3 separate regions of the Homo sapiens genome follow, and regions 1 and 2 are each linked to region 3. Evidence: fine-mapped expression QTL. A gene starts in region 3. Each other region holds a variant in brackets. All regions are shown on one strand. Distances are between the middles of the regions.

What was found. PIP is the estimated chance that this variant, and not a neighbour inherited with it, causes the effect. A credible set is the group of variants that fine-mapping cannot tell apart.
Region 1: its variant is the best candidate, but not a certain one, in a credible set for the expression of CSF1 in blood mononuclear cells (TOPMed, PIP 0.77).
Region 2: its variant is the best candidate, but not a certain one, in a credible set for the expression of CSF1 in esophagus mucosa (GTEx, PIP 0.54).

Annotation. Positions count from the first base shown.
Region 1 is chr1:109,799,504-109,803,703 of GRCh38, reverse strand. No RefSeq gene overlaps it. Among named protein-coding and RNA genes, the nearest start is that of LINC01768, 26 kb to the left of the region's middle. The variant A/G (reference allele first, on the strand shown) is at 1,769.
Region 2 is chr1:109,958,103-109,962,340 of GRCh38, reverse strand. No RefSeq gene overlaps it. Among named protein-coding and RNA genes, the nearest start is that of AHCYL1, 25 kb to the left of the region's middle. RefSeq lists enhancers at 1,381-1,950, 1,951-2,522. The variant A/G (reference allele first, on the strand shown) is at 1,667.
Region 3 is chr1:109,908,962-109,913,154 of GRCh38, reverse strand. CSF1 (colony stimulating factor 1) reads right to left here and starts at 2,306. Exons shown (of 9, transcript NM_000757.6): 1 at 2,093-2,306. The coding sequence starts at 2,131. RefSeq lists enhancers at 920-1,019, 1,096-1,596, 1,597-2,097 and silencers at 1,883-1,992, 2,043-2,212.

The sequences.
Region 1 (4,200 bases), 110 kb after region 3:
AGACCCAGGAGTCCTTGCTGATCAACTGGCTGGATGGTATGGATAATGCAGGGTCCCAGGAGGAAGCCGTCAACATACTCAAACTGGGGGATTTGAGAAGTATTCAATAAGGAGACTATTGTCAAAGGTCTTGGAAAAGGATTGCAGGAACCTGGACCAAGAGCATCAGGCTTTCCTGATGCTGGACCTGATGGCCCCAGGGGAGGTCACTGGACCTGCAGAGCTCTGGAGCTGAGTAGATAGGGCTGCCTGGCAGCAGCTGTGGCCTCATGGAGGGATGCAGCCAGGCTGTGGCTGCCCCACAGGAGGTTAAGTGCCCTGACCTCACTCTCCTCTCTGCCTCCCATAAGCTATCGGCGCTCCCCAGTGACCAAGGCAGAGGGTAAGGGCACCCATAGACGTAGTTCCCACAGTCCTAGGGGGCAGAGCAAGGTGGAGAAAGTTGGCAGGCAGACTGGAAAAAGGCACCCAATCCTGACTCATTTTCCTTCTCTGTACAAGAGTGTTGATGAGCATGCTTATGTTTTGCTTGTTCCAAATTTGAAAAGCAATCATGTATCTAACGGTCCCAGCCTGGAGTCTGGCAGGCACAGGCTGGTTGCCAGCATTTGGTTTCCAAGAGTCAGCAACAAGAACACAAAATCGGGGCCACTGAGAAGTCAGTCACCAGCCCCAGAAGCCCTGGGCAGCAGAACAATCACTGACAAGAGGTTGGCTCAGGAGGTCTTAGAGTCCTTGCCAGGAATGGAACCCAGAAACCCTTTCTCCACACACTCACTCACACCCCAATCCTGCAGCTGTGGGAGGCTGGAGAGCAGCAGCAGCAGGCCTGTAGGCAGCGCAGCGTCGGCCTTCAGGGTGGCAGAGGGGCAGGCAGCTAGACCAGGAGGCCCAGCTCTGCCTAGAATCGTGGGCCCAGCTGGTAGGAAACTGGGCAGTGCTGAGTTCACTTCCCCCAGTGTGGGGATCCTCCTATGCACCCTAGACAGTAGCATCTAGGTGGGAGGAAGCTCACGGCCCCACTGGGCTCCAGGGCAGCTGGGAAGCCTGATTATCAGCAAGTAGCCGCCTGGCCCTGGATGTCCCCAGCCTAGGGCCCGAACAACCCAAGCCCTCAGAACGTCTCCAGGCCCAGCCCCACCTTCTGCCCACCTGTGATATTTATTCCCCTTCAGCGCCCATAACAAAGGCCCCTGGTAAGACCCGCAGCCCTCTGCCCTTTTCTTTATCACTGGCATCGCAAGTTCACAGGAAGAGGGTTTTCAAAGCAACAGAGTCAAGATTGCACTGCGGTCAACGTTTTTCAAAAGAAAAGAAACCAAAATGGATCAAAGAACTGCAGGTGCAGCAGATTAAGACCCTGCCTGTGACCTGTGCCGGGAAATGGGCCAGGGAAGGGTGCGAATGCCTTGGGGTTGGGGCAGCCCCTTCCACTGATTTACTGCTTTTCCAGCTCTCCAGGGCAAGGGCAGGGGAAGGGTCAGAGAGGTGAAGACCATGGCGTGTGAGAAGACTCAAATGTTTGGGAGCCAAACCATCGGGAGGCATCTTCACTCACCCAAAATGCCCCATGCTATGAAAGGAGGGCCAAGCATACAGGATCAGGGCTCAGTCAGAGGCCCACGGGGAGCACCTGCTTCCCTGGTGGTCAGCTCCTCATCCTTTTCCTTGTTCCAATCCTCTGCCCAGGGAGGCCCTCTGTAATAAATCCGTCCAGCCCCCCTCCCCCCTGGGCTGCCAGAACTCTCTGTGGCTCTCATCTGCACCC[A/G]GAGAAACAGGCTCTGAACTGTTCACCCACCTCGGGTTTGCACTGAAATCCAGCCTCCATGCTGGATTGGTAAATTGAGCTTTTCTAAGCAACAATCTGTCTGTTTCTTACAGATTGACTGTAAGCTCCAGGACTAAAGTGCTTCCTAGAGCTTAAAATGAGAAACATGAAGTTCCTATACCTCCTACGAGACAATGATTAAATTTCTCCAGCTGCTTGTAAGAAAGTTATTTGGCCTGGCATGGTGGCTCACACCTGTAATCCCAGCACTTTGGGAAGCTTAGGTGGATAATTTGAGCTCAGGAGTTCGAGGCCAGCCTGGCCAACATGGTGAAACCCCATGTCTACTAAAAATACAAAAATTAGCCAGGTGTGGTGGCACACACCTGTAATCCCAGCTACTTGGGAGGCTGAGGCAGGAGAATCGCTTGAACCTGGGAGGTGGAGGCACCACTGCACTCCAGCCCAGGTGACAGAATGAGAAATAAATAAATAAATAAATAAATAAATAAATAAATAAATAAATAAAAGGTTATCTAATGCATTTAGTATGGGTTATAAAGTTTTTTGTTTTACTGCTCTTATTTTCCTTTTGCTTCATTTTTTTTCTGGTTTCTTTTTAATTTACTTGATCTTGTTATGTTGAATGAATTTTTAAACTCTTTTTCTAAGTTGTGAAGTGCAACAAATATTTGGAAAAGCATAGGGAATTATAGAATGAACATCTTTGTACCCACCAACCAGCTTTACCAATTCTTTTTTTTTTTTTCTTGAGACAGGGTCTTTGTCTGTTGCCCAGGCTGGAGTGCAGTGGCACAATCATAGCTCACTGCAGCCTCAAACTCCTGGGCTCAAGCACTCCCTCTACCTCAGCCTCCTGAGTAAACCACACTTGGCTAATTTTTACATTTTTCGGAAAAGGCAGGTCTCGCCATGTTCCCCAGGCTGGCCTGGATCTCCAGCTCAAGCAATCCTCCCACCTTGGCCTCCCAAAGTGTTGGGACTACAGGTGTGAGCCACTGCACCAGCCCAGCTTTAGCAGTTCTTAACATATTGCCACATTTGCTTCAATTTCTTCTTTATTTTATTGTAGTAAAATATGCTGACATAAAATTGACCATTTTCACCATTTCAATTTCTTTTTGAAACATAATATTGGAAATACAGTTAAAGGGCCCTATAACCTCTGTCCCATTCTCTTCTCTCCTTCCCTTGAGATAATTACTATTCTAAATTTGATTCTTCTATAAAACTGATTACATGTACATTGTAAAATAACCCATTGTACAGTAAAGAAAGGTATAAAGCACAAAGATAAAATTCTCCTGTTACCCCCAGCATGAAACTCACTCCCTCTGAAGAAACCACTGTCAAAGCTTCCTATAAATCTTTCCAGGTATTGTTGTTTTATATTTAGGAATTATATTGACTTGTTTTCTTTCTTAACACAAATGGAATTATGTTATCCATACTGCTCTCCAGCTTGCCTTTTGTTTCCTATTATCAGTGCTCCTTGGACATTTCTCCATGTGAATGCTACTGAATCTATCTTATTCTTTTGAACAGCTGCATGGAATTCTACTTGATTTAATGTTTCCATGGATGGAGATTTAGGTGGTTTCCAGTTACTTTGCTATTTTAAACAAGCGTACACTGAACATTCTTTTTTTTTTTTTTTTTTTTTTTTGAGATGGAGTCTTGCTCTGTCGCCCAGACTGGAGTGAAATGGTGTGATCTTGGCTCACTGCAACCTCCACCTCCCCAGTTCAAGCAATTCTCCTGCCTCAGCCTCCCGAGTAGCTGGGATTACAGGCATGCGCCACCACACCCAACTAATTTTTGTATTTTTAGTAGAGATGGGGTTTCACCATGTTGGCAAGGCTAGTCTCGAACTCCTGACCTAAGGTGATCCACCCGCCTCAGCCTCCCAAAGTTCTGAGATTACAGGCGTGAGCAACCGCACCCGGCCTGAACATTTTTGACAGAGTTTTTGCTCACTTGTGGGAATACTGTGTATCTGTAGAATAAATACCTAGAAGAGGAATTCCTGGATAAAAAGGTACGGAACATTTGACACCTCAAAAGCTATTGCCAAATCTAAAAATGATCAACTTAAACACCTACTGACAATGTCTGAGAGTTCCTGCCTCCCCACATCTTCAAGAACATGTCTTTTCACACCACTGGCCTTTTTTTTTTTTTTTTATCTTCTGTGAACTGTCTGCTCCTATGCCTTTCCTCTAGCCTTTCCTGTGTTTATTTTTCACATGTAACTCTTTGATCCATCTGGAATTAATTTGGGATGCAGCATGAGATAGATGTTCTTTTCAATGAACATTTATTCATGTTTCCCACTCTGTAAATGATTGAATTAAGTGCCAAGACAAAGGGAAATGCAGATCTCTCTCCATTCTTAATAGGCCAGAGGCTAC
Region 2 (4,238 bases), 49 kb before region 3:
TTAACCTCTTTGAACCTTGGGCAGTGCTATAGTTTCAGTATTGGTCCCCTCCAAAACTCGTGTTGAAATTTAACCCCCACTGTGGCAGTATTGAGAGGTAGGGCCTTTAAGAGGTGATTGGATCTTGAAGGCAGAACTGTCAGGTGTGTGGTGGGGCCTGCAAGTAGTTGCCTGCAGCTCCTCTGCCCTCTTCATTTCACCTACTTTTTTTTTTTTTCGGTGGGGTCTTACTCTGTCGCCCAGGCTGGAGTGCAGTGGCGTGATCTTGGCTCACTGCAACCTCCACCTCTGGGTTCAAGCGATTCTCCTGTCTCAGCCTCCCGAGTGGCTGGGATTACAGGAGGCTGCCACTATGCCTAGCTGATTTTTGTATTTTTAGTAGAGATGGGGTTTCATCATGTTGGCCAGGCTGGTCTCAAACTCCTGACCTCCGGTGATCCACCTGCCTTGGCCTCCCAAAGTGCTGGGATTACAGGTGTGAGCCACCGTGCCTGGCCATTTCACCGACTTTGTGAACTTTTCTTCTCCATTTCCCCCCATCTGTTTGCCAGAGGGGTGGGACTGGAAACAGAACAGCTGTGGCTGCTTTGTCTCTCCCCTCCGTGGTGACTTATGGCCTGAGTGGTGACTTACAGGAACCTGGCCACCTAGGTGCTATGCGCCCTCTTAACCTTTGAACTGGAACTGCTGGCTCACACAAGGTTTTGAACAGCTGCAGCAAAAATCCTACAGAAAAGCTGGATTCCTTTGCCTTATGTGGAAACAGCAAGGCCCTGCCAGGTGCTCACCACTGGTCCTGGCAGAAGTGGCTGCTGCTGAGAGTGACCTTCCAAATCCTTGGTGGAACTCAGCACTACAGGCTCTTAAATAAAAACCCTTTAGACACAGAAAAAAGAAAAAAAAAAAACAAAAAAAACTCTCAAACATTTGATGTGAACAGTGCCCTCATTTGTGTATTAATTCATTCATGGATTAATGGATTAAATGGTTAATTAATTAGTTAATTAGCTTGCTCAGCCTCTCACCATGGGGTGCCCCGAACTACCTGGGGACTCCCTACCAGCAAGAAGACTCGCCAGATGCAGCCCCTCAGCCTGGGACTTCTTAGCCTCCATCACTGTAAGAAATAAACTTCTTTAGAAGTTAGTCAGTTTCAGGTATTCTGTTATAAGCAATAGCAAACAGACCAATATAGACATCACCTATAAAACTGAGGTAATAATACTCAATTTACAGGATGATTGTGAGGGTTGGAATACATTATGGGCCAGACACTGAGTCTTAAATGCATTAATTATTACTTTCATTAAATGAGAAAATGTATGCAAAGAGTTTGGCATGGTGCTGGGTACATAGTAACTACTCAATCATTGCTGGCTGCTTTATATTGTTATTCTTCAACCCAGTCCAATTTAGGAACTGCTGGCATATTAACTTGCCTAATAAGCATTTTTTATTATGTTTATCACTTGCTCAAAATCTTCTTTGGCTCCCTTTTGCCTGTTTCAGTAAGTCCAAACTCCTTGCCACGCATTCAAAGCTCTACTTATCAGTTCCCTCCTACCTTTCAGATTTTATCACCTGAATTTGACTATTCAGTGTATCCCATACATACTCCTGGTTTTCCCTCCTTTTTAGCTTTGTTCAAACTCTTCTCTCTCCCCAG[A/G]ATGCCCTTCTCCTCCCATTTTGCTCAGTAAATATTTGCTGAGTAAATAGATGGTGTCCTTTGGAAAAGCTCTCTAAGGGAAGCCAGTTCTTATTCATGCTATATGTCCCCCCTGTGGTGGGAACACACAGGGCAGATTATGTTTATTACCAGCAGGACTTTTCGTAGGGGAGGCATATATGCAAACTGAGAGGTTTTAAAGAAGTCACCCCTGCTCTACAACCCCTCCACCCCTCCCGACTACAGATGCTACATAATACTCACGCCAAGAGGTGATATTGCTAAATTCCTCTTGTTTAATTAGCCTCTCAATTCAGGGCATACTTATCGGATACCTACAAAGCGCTCTGCAACTTGCCTGAAACTGTGTGGGTCAGAGTACATTTAAGACCATCCAGCTGGAAGTGAGAAGACTTGAAAAACATTGGCAAACAATGCATGTGAATTCAGAGTTGGTTTCTAAATTTTGTAATGCTGAAGACAAGTCTTTGACTAGGATGAGCCTGTGCACTAGAGCAAAGGTCAAAAGAGGTTACAGCCAGTCGAAACTTTGAAAGGGCCCTTCCTGGAGTGCATCTCCTTGTCCCGCATGCTTTAAGAATGTATGGTATGCTAAAACAAACATCTGATGTAGGCTGGTGAAATGCAAACCAGTATTCTGTATTCATGTGATAAGCCAGGCCCAGGGCAGTCTCCTAAAAGGCAGCTTTCTTAAAATCACGGGTAACTTTCTGCTTCTAAACATATGGGTGCAGGGAGAGATTTTTTTCCCCCAAGGACCAGCTCCCACACCCAATGTAGTTCACTGGTTCAGCACAAGCTCAGTTGTTTAAGATGCTAAGACATCTTTAACAACAGGAGCAGTAAGCACAGGGAGATGACAAACAGACATTTCTGAGTTTACTCAGTGCCTTAGCCCAGCTTAACTCACTGTCTAGGCTCTTGGCAGGTCTCTAACCTGGATTTTATTTCCAGAATATTCTCAGCTCCCAGATTATTCAGAATAAGATAATAAAAGTTAAAATTGGAGCACATGCTTTGAAATCAAATGAGTTTGGGTTTGAACCCAGCTCAACCACTTACTAGCTCTGTGACCTTGAAACTCAAAAATGTTTTCTGAGGTTTGGTTTCCTCCTTTTGACAATTGGGGTGATACCACTGACGTTAGGATTTATTGTGAGGATTAATGAAATGATGTGTTTGGAGTGTAGGCTCAGTATTTGATGGTTAGTATCACCATGACAATGACTAGAGGTCCCCCTCACTCCGTTCCACACCCAAACTATCTCCTCCAAAGCTACCCAAATTCTAATTTTTTTTTTTTTTTTTGACAGAGTCTCCTGTTGCCTAGGCTGGTGTGCAGTGGCACCATCTCGGCTCACTGCAACCTTTGCCTCCCAGGTACAAGCGATTCTCCTGCCTTAGCCTCCCGAGTAGCTGGGACTACCACCACGCCCTGCTAATTTTTTTTGTATTTTTAGTAGAGACGGAGTCTCACCATGTTGGCTAGGGTGGTCTCCAACTCCTGACCTCAAGTGATCCACCTGCCTCAGTCTCCCAAAGTGCTGGGATTACAGGCATGAGCCACCGCACACAACCCTAAATTCTAAATTTAACGGCTCTCTTTGCTCTGTATTCCTCCTACACCTCTTAATAACGATAAGTGTAAATAGTAATAATAGCCAAGCACAGCTATAGCCTACTACATGCCCATGCCTGTGGTGGACACCTCCAAACATTATCTCCAATCCTATTCCCAGTTTACAGTGCAGGAAACTGAAGCTCAGATAAGATAAGTGACTTGCCCAAAGTAAGTGGAAGAGCTGGAATTAGAACTCAGGCCTTCTCTCTCCAAAGCATATGGGCTTTCTACTTAACCACATTTTCTCCTTTGGAAAGAGAAGTCTGTTTTTCTGGATGCAAAGACCAGATACTCTAGCTTCCCCTTAACAACTTTCAGAGCTTTTCTAATTGCTTGCCTCTGTAACTGTAATTCATTCATTTATTCACCCCACAAATGTTTATAGTGTATATCAGGTGCTAGGGGTATAAAAATGATTAAGGCAGTCATCTTCAGAGTTCACACTTTGATGGGGAAGACAGACACATAAATGGGCAAGTGAGGAAGTCAGTGATTAGGTAAAAGGGCACAGTGGGACCCCAGAGTCCAGGTGGGGTTGGAGGAAGAAATGATGACATCAGAAGAAGCTTTCAAAGGACTTGGGTTAATTCATTGACCTACTCTTTATTTCATTCATTTCAGAAATGTGTTTTAAGCAACTATTCTGTTTCAGGCTCTAGGCTAAGCCCTGGAATTAAATGTAGGCATGGCTTGCTTCCGTCTGGCCAGGAGGGATGGACTATAAATAATTAAATGACATTAAAATTGTCTTGGGGTTATGCCAGAAGGATGTACAAGTTAAATCAATGGGGGGGGGAGGGGGTTGGGTGCACAAATAAATGGTTAATTCTCTAGGGCAAGTGTTGTTTCGAAGGTCCAATTTCTTTCAAACATGTTTTTTCTTTTTCCTATTCATTCCTGTCTTACTGTTTGTTTTTGTTTTTGTTTTTG
Region 3 (4,193 bases):
AGGCTATGAAACAGCCCACAACAATGTGCTAATCTACATATCACCAAAAGCCCAAATGCTTGCCAGCTCTTCTGGGGAGGAGAAGGCAGCTCTGGCTGGGTGACCAGGGAGACTGCAGAGAGCAGGGACCTCAGTGAGGCCTTGAAAGATGGGGAGAAGGTGATGGCAGGAGAGGGGTGGGAGCCATGGAAGGAAGAGCCAAAGGATAGTTTCATACCACTCAGCACAGGGACTGTGAGGATCCTGGCTGATCTGAGGGAGGGAAAGTGTGGAAGAGGGGGACGGCAGTCACGGGGGCTGGGGGGACTTCAGGCTCTGTTGGGGAGGTTGCCCTGGGTGGGAATAATGGCCCAGGTACTCAGAAACCTTAGGTTCAGGAATGATTGGAGGAAACTGGGCCACTAGACGGTGTATCTACCCCAGACTGGCTGCCACTCAAGGTCTGGAGTGAATGGTATGGATGAAAGGGACCGCTCAGGAAGACAACCTCCCTGGAGGAGAGCAAGGTGGGAGCAATGCTTAACCCCAAGGGCTGTCTGGCTTTGATGACATTTGAGGCATCAGTGTGGGGAAAGTGCAGCCACTACATGAGAGGCTGACTTCGAAGCTGGCCAAAGGGGATACCCCTGGACCTGGGGCCTCCATTCTGCCTCAGGAGGATCTGGACAGACAGTGGGGGGTTAACACTCTGGCTTGCATCTGGCTGGGCAGGCTCTCCTCTGACTGCCTCTTCCTCCCACCCCTAGCCCTGGCTTCTGCCTGGGGAGCAGCCCTCAGAAGGAATCTCTGCTGCAGGCTCAGAGATGCTAGGACACCTCAGTCCAGCTGTCCAGCCTCCTCTGCCACCTATCCTATTCCATTTCATCTTCCCCCTCAACAAGGCCTCTGGAGAGACCTGGCAGAACCGGGCCCTTGGACTTCCCCTGTCTAAACACAGCCCCCTTGTCTTTCTCTTCTTTCCTCATGGTCTCCCCTTCAGCCCCGAAGCTTTGCTTTCTGCCTATGGCTAACCCTTCTCCCTTCCCCTCTCAACTCTATCTCCTCTCTCTCAGTGAGGCACTTTCTTTCTGTGGACCCACTCTTCCCTTTCTCTCTCACCTCACCTGCAGCCCGCTCTCCTCTACCCCCAAATAATTTTCTGCTCTTTTCCCCCCAGGTTTCCCCTCTCATTTTCTTCCAGGACTCCTCAGAAGCAAATCTATTATGAGCCCACTGACTGGTCATGAACAGTGCCACCCTCACTTTCTATGGCTGCATCTGCTACCGCCACAGTTGGGGCAGGGCGTCCCTTACGCAGTCAGGAGCAGACCCTGCCCCTGGACACAGCTCTGCAACACCAAACCCTCTTTCCATTTTCCTCAAGCACTGCAAACCACCATAAACCACCACAAAGCCCAGAATCTCCCCAACCGATGAAACCAGAATTTGCAAGAAAAAGAGATTCTGAGCTAGCCCCAAGCAGCCCCGGGGGTGGGGGGCTGTTTGCCGGCTGTTGCCGTCCCCCACCCCACCCCCCAAACAGCCACCCAAGTCCTCCGTAGCTCCTGCCTGTGGGCTGGAACAAGCAGTGGCTTGCCCCTCTCCGTCCCTCTGCCAGCAAGTCCCTGGCGTTCTATAAGCTGGTTGACCCCCTGAACTTTCCCTGCCCAGAAGCGCCCACTCCTCAGCAGGGCCTTGGAAGCACGTGTGTGGCCGATGAGGAAGGTGCCCACCGGGGAGGGCACACACTCAGCGCACAGCCACTCCGCCCGTGCCTTGGTGGTGGCGGGTAGGGAGAGAGGCAGGGCACCCTGGCTGAGCGGGGGCTCCTGCCTGCAGGTGGCTCAGTGTTCCCCTCCGTGCAATGGGGTGAGCAGCCCTCCGTTTCCCAGGGAAGCCTGGCAGTCCCGGTGCAGCTGCAGGGCCGCCACCGGCCTCCGCCCTGGCGCCAGGGCCCAGTCCGTGCGCAAAGGCGGTTCGTCCGCGGCGGGAACGCCGGGCCAGTGCAGCCGGCGCGCCCAGGCTGTCGGCTCCGAGGGGCCGCTCCCGGCCGCCTGGCCGCCGAGCCCCCGCCCCAGCCCGTCCCGGGCCCAGCGCCGCGGCCGTCGCTTACCGTGGGAGGGCAGCGCCCGGCGGCGCCCGGCGCGGTCATACGGGCAGCTGGGTCCCGGCCGGGCGCGTCGGCCGCCCTCGCTCGCTCGCTCGCTCGCTGGCTGCTGCGGAGTGGGCGCCCCGGCCGAGGGCCGCACCGCTGTCCTGGGATGCGGAGAGCGGCTCTGGCGCCGAGAGGACCCAGGCAAACTTTCACTTTCCCCGGGCCGAGCCTCACTGGCCAGCCCTCGGCACAGCCTTTTAAGAGAGGACTGGGGGGCATGTGGTTTATGGGAAATCACCCTGGCCAGGCGCCAGACACACACATACACACACACACACACACACTGACACAGACACACACACTCCAGAGGCCCACTCAGCCGCCTTCCCCCGCCTCCCCTCCCCCACCCGCCGGCCGGCCAGCCCCGCTCGCGCGTCTTCCTAGTCACCCTCTGTCTTCTGCGCTGCACTTCCAAGCCTTCAGCAAACGAGCGCGGGCTCCACCGCGTCCCCACCCTGCCTTCCCCGCGCCCTCTGCGGACCGACCCTTTCCTTCCGCGCTCTCCAGGCTGATTCAGTGCTAGCGCTCTATGATCGTCCCAAGGGACTTTCCCTCCAGGCCTGAAAATCCCCAAATCTTAGCAGAAAACGGACCGAGAGCAGGGACAAGCACTGGGAAGGGAGGGAAATCCTTTGAAGACGCCCCCACCCCATTCTCGGAGTGCCGAAAGGAGTCCAGTGTTACTTGCTCCCTCGTGGAGCCTGAGTCAGCAGGTTTGCCGGCAGCCCCCTTCTTCCTCTGCAGCCCCCAAGCAGCCCGGCCAGCTTCAAGTCCCATTCTGGGAGGGAGGCCAGCTACCTGGCCAGGAAGGGAGCAGCTGTGTCCTGTGACAGCAAGCTGGGGGGCTCTTCCCTGGGTGCCAGCAGACACTTCAAGGCACCTGACCCTTAGATGATGAAAATGCTGGCTGGTACCCATGCTCTCTCCTGGAGGCAAAATCCAACTCAGATTGGAAAGGTCCTGCACCTGGACCCTAGATTTCCCTGGATGTTTTTGGAAATTGCACTTACTGAGGTGATTAATCACGTTTTGTTTCTACATGAGAATGAGTCTAAGTGAGGACTAGTAGGATGAGCCTAAGCCTATTAATTATAATGCCAACTTCAGGAGATTTTTCTTTCTTCAATTCATTATGATTCAATTCCTCTGTGAGGTTGCCCGTTTCCACCCCCTGGGAAATAAAGGATATGTGGCCTGCTCTTGAAGAGGAGTCTCTTGTCAGTAGCGCTACATATCCTTCACTCCAATCCTAGGCAATAATTTTACACCCGAATGCCTTTGCTCAGACTGGTCCCTCTGCCTGGAATGCTCCTTTCTCCACATGGCTGAAGACAAACTCCTCATCATTTCAGGCTGAAATTGCATCTCATCCTCCACCAGCAAAGCCTTCTGTGACTCTCCTGGCAGAGCAAAGGGTCCTTTTCCTGTGTTCCCATTGGACTTGGCTCATTCCTCAATGCTGGCTCTGATAAGTCATTTGCCATCCATTCATTCTCCACAGTACTTTTCGAAGTGTTTAAGGTGGTACCGATGGTTACATTCTGTCCCCACCCTAGACCGAGACTTCTTCCAGGTGGCACCCATGCTCAGTCACCTCTGGATCAATGGTACCTAGCACATAATAGGTACCAAGTTAATGATGGCTGAGTTGAATGATGCCATTAGAGAATACTTTGTTCTTTTGACAAATATGTGCTACCAGATGCTAGGCACCGTGCTGGGCCCTGGGGATACAACAATGACATGGTCACTGTACAATAATGATTTCAGATAACATGTTGACACCACAGTTCTTAAGACTGATAAAAGGTTAGAGGAAGTAACCTGAGAAAGATAAACCAACAGACTTGTTGAGAAAGGGGTCCAGTTTTACTTGCTCCTTCCTTCACCAACCCAGCCCTGGCCCAGGTTCACTGAGGCTGGCATTTGGACTTTGCTCAGCTTCTGGAGGAACGTAATCATTCTCCACGTTGGTGCAAGGCCTGAGGTCCTCATTCCCCGCACTGGAGTTCTTTACATACCCTGGTTTGAACCTGACTCCACTACTTACAAGTGATTT